Regions from separate parts of the Homo sapiens genome. Here all the other regions are linked to region 1. Evidence: fine-mapped expression QTL. A gene starts in region 1. Each other region holds a variant in brackets. All regions are shown on one strand. Distances are from middle to middle.

Region 1 (2,676 bases):
AAAAGCAGAAGGAGGTGTATGTCAGGCAGCCCGGGGGGCCCAGCCTCCAGCTAGTTACCCACAGAGTCACCCGCCTTCCTCCCTGCCTCTGTACCCCAGGTGCAAACTCCCAGCCACAGGCGGGTGCCCAAGAGTCTTCCGCCTTTGTGGGGGTAGGTGGGAGCTCGGCTGTAACCCCCATCTGCCTTCACTCCTGCAGAAGAGAGGAGGCTGCGACCACCAGGTGGCGGGATAGTGGGGAGCGTTTCCGTCGGGGTAGGGGCTGAAGGCAGGCGACAGATGTACCCATAGATGCCCCGAGCACCCTCGGGAAAAGAGAAGAGATAAAGACGCATTCAGAGGGAGGGCGAGAGTGACCCCGCGGCGGTGGTGTCCTCTGGGAGGGGGACTGGGAAGGAGGAAAGGATGCCCCACTACTGGAGGGACTGGGGAAGAAAGGGGCCCGCAGTGATGTGACCGAGGAGTGGAAAGGGGAACCCAGGCCCTCGGGGAGGGGCAATGGGAGATAACACAGGGCGCTGCCCGGAGGCACAGAGGAGTGAGAAAGGATGTCCCATGCCCGCAGGGAGATAGAGAAGGACACCCAGGGCGCCGCCCCCCCCGGAAACAAGGGGTGGGGGGCGAGGGCTCCTCGCGCCCGGAAGCAGGCGGAGAGATAGGGAACCCCGGGTCGGAGAGCACCCGAGGCGCTGCCCTCCAGGGCAGGCACAGACCCCGCGCGCTCCTAGTCAGGTGGAGCAAAGGCTCCCGCGACGCCGCCCCTGGGCGCTCTAGAGGCGCCTGAGAGCAGGAGAGGGCAGGAGGCGCCCCGCGGCGGCCCGTCTGGGACCAGGGTGGGGACAGGGCAACGGCAGGACTGTCCATCCGGGAGTCCCGGGCAGCAGGGTCCGGAGCCGGGAGTCCGGAGACGCGGGGTCCCAGGGTGCGGAGGGCGCGGAGGGCGCAGAGGGCGCGGAGAGGGGGTCCCTGGCGCGGCGCTGCCCTCGGGGGCCCGGGAAGGTGCCCTGCGCGCGCGCGCTCACCAGATGAAGTCGGTGCAGTGGCTGCAGAAGGTGGGCTGCTTGAAGAAGCGGGCGGTGAATTTGTGGTTCTTGACCTCATGCACGTTCTTCTGCCGGAGGGCGCCTTTGCGGGCGAAGCGCACGGTGCTCTCCTCGCCCTCGCTCGGCGGCGGCCCCGCAGCCGGGTCAGCCATCTTGCGCGCGGGGAGCCGGAGCCCGAGAGGTGCCGGCCCCGGGGCCGCGGGACCGCGGGCTGCGGGCCGGGGAGGCGCGGGAGGCGGCGGCCGCTGCTGCACCCGGGGCCGCGGGCGCTTCCCCTGCGCCGGCTCTGGCGGCCGCGGCGCGCGGAGCCGGGGCTGTCACTCGCCCAGCTGCTGCCGCTCGTCCAGCTGCGCTTGGCACCGCTGGCCCCAGCTGCGGGGGAGGGAGGCGGAGCCCCGGGCCAGCCCCGCCCTCCTCATTTGCATCGCGCCCAGGCCCCGCCCAGCGCTGCCAGCTGCTTTACATATCGGCGCCCGGGCTACCGCGGGCCTCGCGGCTAAGCGTGCACAGCCGCAGCTCTGCAGCGCCGGGACCGCAGCCCGGGGTCGTCGGACCCGAGCCTCGCCCCCCACCCCACCCCGTCCTCGGCCCCCGGGGCTGCGTTCAGGAGATGTGCCCAGGGGAGGAGCGAGAGTGGAAAGACCTACGGGGCGAAGGGGAGCGGGTGGAAGGGGTGGGGCGCAGCGAATTCCACCCCGGCCTCTGCGGAGACTGGTACCCATCCACCCCCATCCATCCCATTGGTCATTCTGCACGCGTCTCCTGGAGGGATGGGCTCCCGCTGTCACTCATTCGGAAAGGCTTGTGGCCGCACACACTTACACACACATACACACACACGTTCTGCAGAGGTAGGGGAGGAGCGATCTTTATTTTATATGTCTCTAACTCCACCACAGAGAAGATTCTTGGCTTTGCTTGCCTCCTGCACGTTTGGAAGAGAACTCCCTACCTTCTGTCCATCCCCTCTGCAAAACGACTCCGTTTCCCCAACTGTAACATAGGGCTAATAGTGTGGGGAGGAAGGATTTCAGTAGATCAATATTTTTCCAAATTTCATTCATTTCTGACTCGTCTTCACAAATTCTGGTCGTATTTGTGCACCCTCTGGGGGAAAAAAAGCCTATCTCTTTTGGTCTGAGTTTGAACAGCAAGAGGTATCTACATTATTAAAATATCTCCAGGTGCCGTCATCTGTCCTAAGCATCTTCGACTGAAGTCATCTTTTATTTGTTAAGAGAGGAAATTAATAAATGCTAGAGGGGTGTTAAAGACATTACTATCCAACCAGGACTCTCTCCTTGATGTGATCTGAAGGTAACTGAAAGGGTAATAATTGTCTACAATGTGTAATTCAATGTTATTTAGCGCCCTGTTCATGCACAAGGCCTAAAGATACCCACTGCCACCATGTCCCCCACTCTGGGAACGCAGAGCTTCATTAGGCTGTGAGCTCCTTCACCAGACCTAGGCTCTGTGAGAGCAGGGGGGCTGTTCACCACCATGTCGCCCAGCACCAAGCTCAGTGCCTGACACCTCCCAAGACCCCAGTAAATATTGGTTGATTGAGTGAGGGCATGGATGAACAAGTGAATGAATGAAGACTTAAAGGTCGGCACTTCTTACCCCCACT
Region 2 (2,810 bases), 82 kb before region 1:
AAGAGAAGGGAACTTCTGACACACGCAACAATGTGGATCAACCTTGATAACGTTACACAAAGAAAGAAATCTTAAGATGACAAATACTGGATGATTCCACTTATATGAGATACCTATAGTATTCAAATTCATAGAGACAAAGTAGAATGGTGGTGGCCATGGGGTGGAGGAAGAGGGAATGGAGAATTGTTGAGTTTTGAGTTTGAGAAATGATAGAGTTTTTGAGTTTTGCAAGATAAAGAAGTTCTGGAGATCTATAGCACAACAATGTGATCCTACTTTCTGGCATCTGCAATGATAGCATGTTGCTTGTGTACTAAGAAAAACTAATAAAATATGATCCATTTCAAAATATAGAGATATCTGGTTATATAGCAAAGATCATGAAAATATATTCAGGAACCCTATCCGGTATTTTTGTCAGACTCCAGGAAATTTTGGAGGTTTTTTTTTTTTTGCAAATTCGTCCATGACTCTGTTCTAACATAAGCCTCAGTATTCAAAGCATATTCACATAGTATCTTTCCAAATGTGTTTTATAAGTAGTATAATTTGATTTGGTTTTGGATGTATCCTAGGGAATATTCCAAAAGTAATAGAGCTATAGTTACTTTTGTGCAGAAATTTTCTCTACTGCTGGATCCTTAACAACTTATATCCCTTACATCACACTGTGATGAAGGCTCAAAGATATACTTGATGGATAACACATTTACATAACCCTTTAAAAAATACGTGTTAATTTAAACAACAAAATGAATGTTTCATCTTTGAAATAGTCACCTTAGAAGGTTTAATAAAGAAAACTGTATCTAAACGGAATTTCTAAAGAGGATACTAGAAACATGTTTGAGCCATGACAAGTTCCTTAGAATAAGTGAATAGCCAGATTATGCTCAAAGCAAGTCATCTCAATCCTTAATCATAAAAGTATTAAAGCTATGAACTTATCTGCAAGCACAGCATTGGCTGATCTTATCCATTGTTTTATATAGCACTCTATTTTTTTTCATTTATAGCCTCTCTGCAATTGTACTTTTGAGTCCTATTTAACTCAATAGTTATTTAAGAAAATATTTTTAATTGCTTGATGCTTAGATTTGATTAGATATTAGTTTCATTTCATCTCTTACAAAAGTAACACAAAAGGCCTGGCATGGTGCCTCATGCCTGTAATCCCAGCACTTTGGGAGGCCGAGGCGGGTGGATTACTTGAGCCCAGGAGTTCGAGACCAGCCTGGCCAACATGGCAAGACCCCACCTCTACTAAAAATACAAATATTAGTTAGGCCTGGTGGTGTGTGCCTGTAGTCCCAGCTACTCGGGTGGCTGAGGCACGAGAATCTCTTGAGCCCAGGAGGTGGAGGTTGCAGTGAGCCAAGATCACGCCAATTCACTCCAACTTGGGTGACAGAGTGAAACTCTATTTCAAAAAAA[A/T]AAAAATAATAATAATAATAATAATAAAAAGGTAACACAAAGAACAAGTCTTTAATAATGGAAACTTAATCATGTGAAGTTGACTGAAATTTAGGGAAAAGATAAGTATCTTCTAGTAGACCTCACCTACTCTGTGAAGGACAGACCATTATTTCCTATGTCTTCCCATAGAAACCCCCACTGCTTCTCCATCACCACCATCCCAGTTTTGCTTTACATCTTTGTTGGCTCCCTCCCATCCCTCCAAGTGTCAAAACATCCCCCATCCCCAAGTCAAACTGCCCCTCTTGTTTAGAGATTCACAAAACAATCCCCAGCCGGCTCTAAGAAGTCTTTTGCTGTTCTTGCTGATAAACCCCATTTTATTCATTCCCCATATTTTCCTCTCATCTTAGTAATTTGAAATGTTTCCTTGACATATGCAAAATATTCAGGGCTAGTCACGTAAGATCACCAAGAAAGACAAAGAAACCAAATGTGAAATGCGTTGATTAGTCCTCCACACCCTGCCTTCCCTTTGGAGGCAAATGTGTTTCTAAGACAGACACGAAATTTTCTCTTGCTTTGAGTCAGCTTTACGAGATCACTTACCCTCTGATACCCACTAATGTCTTGCCAGAAACTGCAAAAAACATCTGATCCTCTCTCTGGGCCTGCGATGAAACCTTTCCTCAACCAAGTAGAAATGAATGGCAGTGCCTCTGTTTTAAATGTGGTCCATCTGGAGAACTGCAGAGAAGTCACAAATGGCCTTCCACCAGTGACCGCCACCTGGCATGGGGCTCACCAGCTCTGCTTTGTCCTTGTCACTCAGGCCTGTGGAGGCCAATCCCATTCATAATCGAGAGCTGCAGTCCCTCCTAATCTCCGAATGGACATCCTTCCTCCAGTCACCCCAGGCCAGGTCATATGAACAAGGAGCTTGGACAGAACCACAGGAAGGGTTTCTGAGTCAATATATCCCAATTTTGGAAACACCCCAGGGATGCCCATACTATGGACCACGATGCAATCATAAAACAGAATGAGGTGGCCGGGCGTGGTGGCTCACGCCAGTAATCCCAACCCTTTGGGAGGCAGGTGGATCATCTGAAGTCAGGAGTTTGAGACCAGCTCGGGCAACATGGCAAAACCCTATCTCTACTAAAAACACAAAAATTAGCCGGGTGTGGTAGCACACACCTGTAATCCCAGCTAGTCAGGAAACTGAGGTGGAAGAATCACATGAACCTGGAAAGTGGAGGTTGCAGTGACCCAAGACCACTGCACTCCGGTCTGGGCAACAGAGCGAGACTCTGTCTCAAAAAATAAATAAATAAAAATAGAATGAGACATTGGGTGCAGTGGCTCACTCTTGTAACCCCAACACTTTG
Region 3 (2,810 bases), 91 kb before region 1:
CTCAGTAGGCTGAGGCAGGAGAATTGCTTGAACCTGGGAGGTGGAGGTTGCAGTGAGCTGAGATCATGCCATTGCACTCCAGCCTGGGCAACAAGAGTGAAACACCATCTCAAAAAAATAAAAATAAAAAATAAACGTCTGTGGAAACAGCCCTATACATTCTTTCATTTCTATATATTTCAAGAGTATTTCCAAAGCCAGTATTCCCAGCCTGGGCCCCTCCTCTCTTCTCGCCTGAATCTACATGAGCTCTTGGCAAAACCCCAGCACACTCCATGACTGCAATGACTACTGATGTGCAGCTAAGGCTCAGATCTCCACCCTGAGCCCAGATCCACGCCCTAAGCCCCAAGATATCCACACGCCAACTGGTCTGTGCCATTTGGACACCAACTAGGTGTCTAAAAGGGAGACAGCCTTCCCTCAAAACATGTTCCTCCTCCCATGGTTCTATCTCTGTCAAAAGCACCACCAGCGCACCTAGTACCCAAGCCAGAAACCAGGGAGCCATCCCTGACTTTCTCATTCCTCCCACGCCAAATCAATCACTAAGTTCTCTCAATAACACCCCCTAAATATCTCTTGAATCTTCCATCCACCTCTCTCCTTCCTCACCACCACTCAGGCGTCCTCAAGTCCTGCCTAGATTACTACCACCGCCTCCTAACCCAAGATCCTTCCTCCAGCCTTGTCACTGTGAAATTCATTTTTAACGGCAGCCAGAGTGGTTTCTAAAAGACAAATCTAATCATGTAATGCTTAGAAAAAAGAAAAGGCTCTGTACTCTCAGAATAAAATGTACACACTCTTTCATAGGACAGATGAGCCCTTTATGACAGGGTTCCTTACTTCCTTTTCTCTGAGCTTGTCCCTAAACACATCCCCTACCCTGAAAATACACAAACATGCCCTTCATTCCAGCCATGCCAAAGTGATTTTGGTTCTTCAATCCTCTTGTGCTTTTGTATATACTATTTCCTCTGCCTGGAGCACTCTCCCCCTTCTTTCCACATCCTCCTTTACTTAGTTAAACCTGTCATCCTTAAGGTGGGACTTTGATATCATTTAGTCCTGGAAGCCTTCCTGATGCCTTCAATTAAGCACCCAACTCTACGCTCACACCATGCGCTTACAGCCATCACAGCACATATCTCACCGTACAGGCACCTGCCTGGTTAGCCATCTGCATTCTTTACCAGACAATAATTTTGGTAATAGCAGAGGCTACGCCTGTTGTGTTCACTGTGAGACACCTCAGCACCACCACCACCATACGCAGTAAGAAGTATTCAATAAATACTTTAATGGATAAATAAATCGACCAATGTATACATCGAAGCTTTTGAGAAAACTTGCTTTTAAAAATCTGGCAGGACAATTTTTTGAAGCTTGGGAGCTGCCTTGTAGACTGAGATCTTTTACCTGAATTTTGGGCAGCTATCCAAAGAAGAAATTATTATATAAAAGATGCCTGCACTCATAC[G/A]TTTATCACAGTACAATAGCAAAGATATGGAATCAACTTAAGCATCAATCAATGGATGACTGGATAAAGAAAATGTATATATATTTATATATACATATATATTAATATACATATCATTGTGTGTATATAGACACACATACCACCATATATATACATATATACACGTATGTGTGTGGTATATGTATGTATATCTATATATACATACACACAATAGAATACTACTCAGCCATAAAAAAGAGTAAGACCTTTGATTTTATTTTTATTTATTTATTTATTATTTATTTTTTTTGAAACAGTCTCACTCTGTCGCCCAGGCTGGAGTGCAGTGGGGCAATCTCGGCTCACTGCAACCTCCACCTCCCGGGTTCAAGTGATTCTTCCACCTCGGCCTCCTGAGTAGCTGGGACTACAGGCACCCGCCATCATGCCCAGCTAATTTTTGTATTTTTGCAGAGATGGGGCTTCACCATGTTGGCAAGGCTGGTCTTGAAGTCCTGACTAAAACAGGGTCTCACTCTGTCACCCAGGCTGGGGGGCAGTTGTGTGATCATAGCTCACTGCAGCCTTGAACTCCTGGGCTCAAGAGATCCTCCTGCCTCAGCCTCTCAAGAAACTGGGACCACAGGTACACAACACGATGCCTGGCTAATTTAATTTTTATAGAGCCGGAGTCTCACCAAGTTGCTCAGGCTGGTTTCAAACTCCTGGGCTCAAGTGATCTTCCTTCGTCAGCCTCCCAGTGTGCTAATATGACAGGCATGAGCCACCATGCCCAGTCTGAAATCATGTCTTTTGCAGCAACAGGATGGAACCCAAAGCCATTATCTTAAAAAAAAAAAACTCAGAAAGAGAAAGTCAAATAATGCATATTCTTAGTTATAAATGGGAACTATATAATACACATAGACACAGAGTATGGAATAATAGTCATTCTCCAATGGCTACTGAATGACTGTTGAGTAATAGTCATCCTTCTTGGAAGGGTTGGGTGGGGGAGTGAAGGATAAGAAATCACTTAATGAGTACAGGGTACCCTATCTGGGTGATGGACATACCAAAAGCACAGATTCTACCACTAAATAACATATCCATGTAACAAAATTGCACTTGTGCCTTCTCAATTTATACAAGTAAAAACTTTTTTTAAAAAATTTAAGAAGTCCTCATGTTTGGAAGAGAGACAGGATGACCTCAGACAGGGATGCTGGGTTTCGGCACTTCAAGGCTGACAAGACAATGTCAAGAATGGAGTCCTTGGATCCCCAGTCCCCTAGAAATGGGATGCAAGCTCTCTGTCCTTGGAAACGGCCAACCTTAAGAACACAGG

What was found. PIP is the estimated chance that this variant, and not a neighbour inherited with it, causes the effect. A credible set is the group of variants that fine-mapping cannot tell apart.
Region 2: its variant is the best candidate, but not a certain one, in a credible set for the expression of PRKCB in monocytes after LPS (Kim-Hellmuth 2017, PIP 0.51).
Region 3: its variant is the best candidate, but not a certain one, in a credible set for the expression of PRKCB in whole blood (INTERVAL, PIP 0.75).

The regions. Positions count from the first base shown.
Region 1 is chr16:23,834,695-23,837,370 of GRCh38, reverse strand. PRKCB (protein kinase C beta) reads right to left here and starts at 1,388. Exons shown (of 17, transcript NM_002738.7): 1 at 1,023-1,388. The coding sequence starts at 1,195. RefSeq lists enhancers at 283-422, 686-1,231, 1,232-1,779 and silencers at 733-812, 1,143-1,222, 1,253-1,892.
Region 2 is chr16:23,917,035-23,919,844 of GRCh38, reverse strand. The region is part of intron 2 of PRKCB (protein kinase C beta); the gene reads right to left. Among named protein-coding and RNA genes, the nearest start is that of PRKCB, 82 kb to the right of the region's middle. The variant A/T (reference allele first, on the strand shown) is at 1,438.
Region 3 is chr16:23,925,444-23,928,253 of GRCh38, reverse strand. All of the region lies in intron 2 of PRKCB (protein kinase C beta), which reads right to left. Among named protein-coding and RNA genes, the nearest start is that of PRKCB, 91 kb to the right of the region's middle. The variant G/A (reference allele first, on the strand shown) is at 1,484.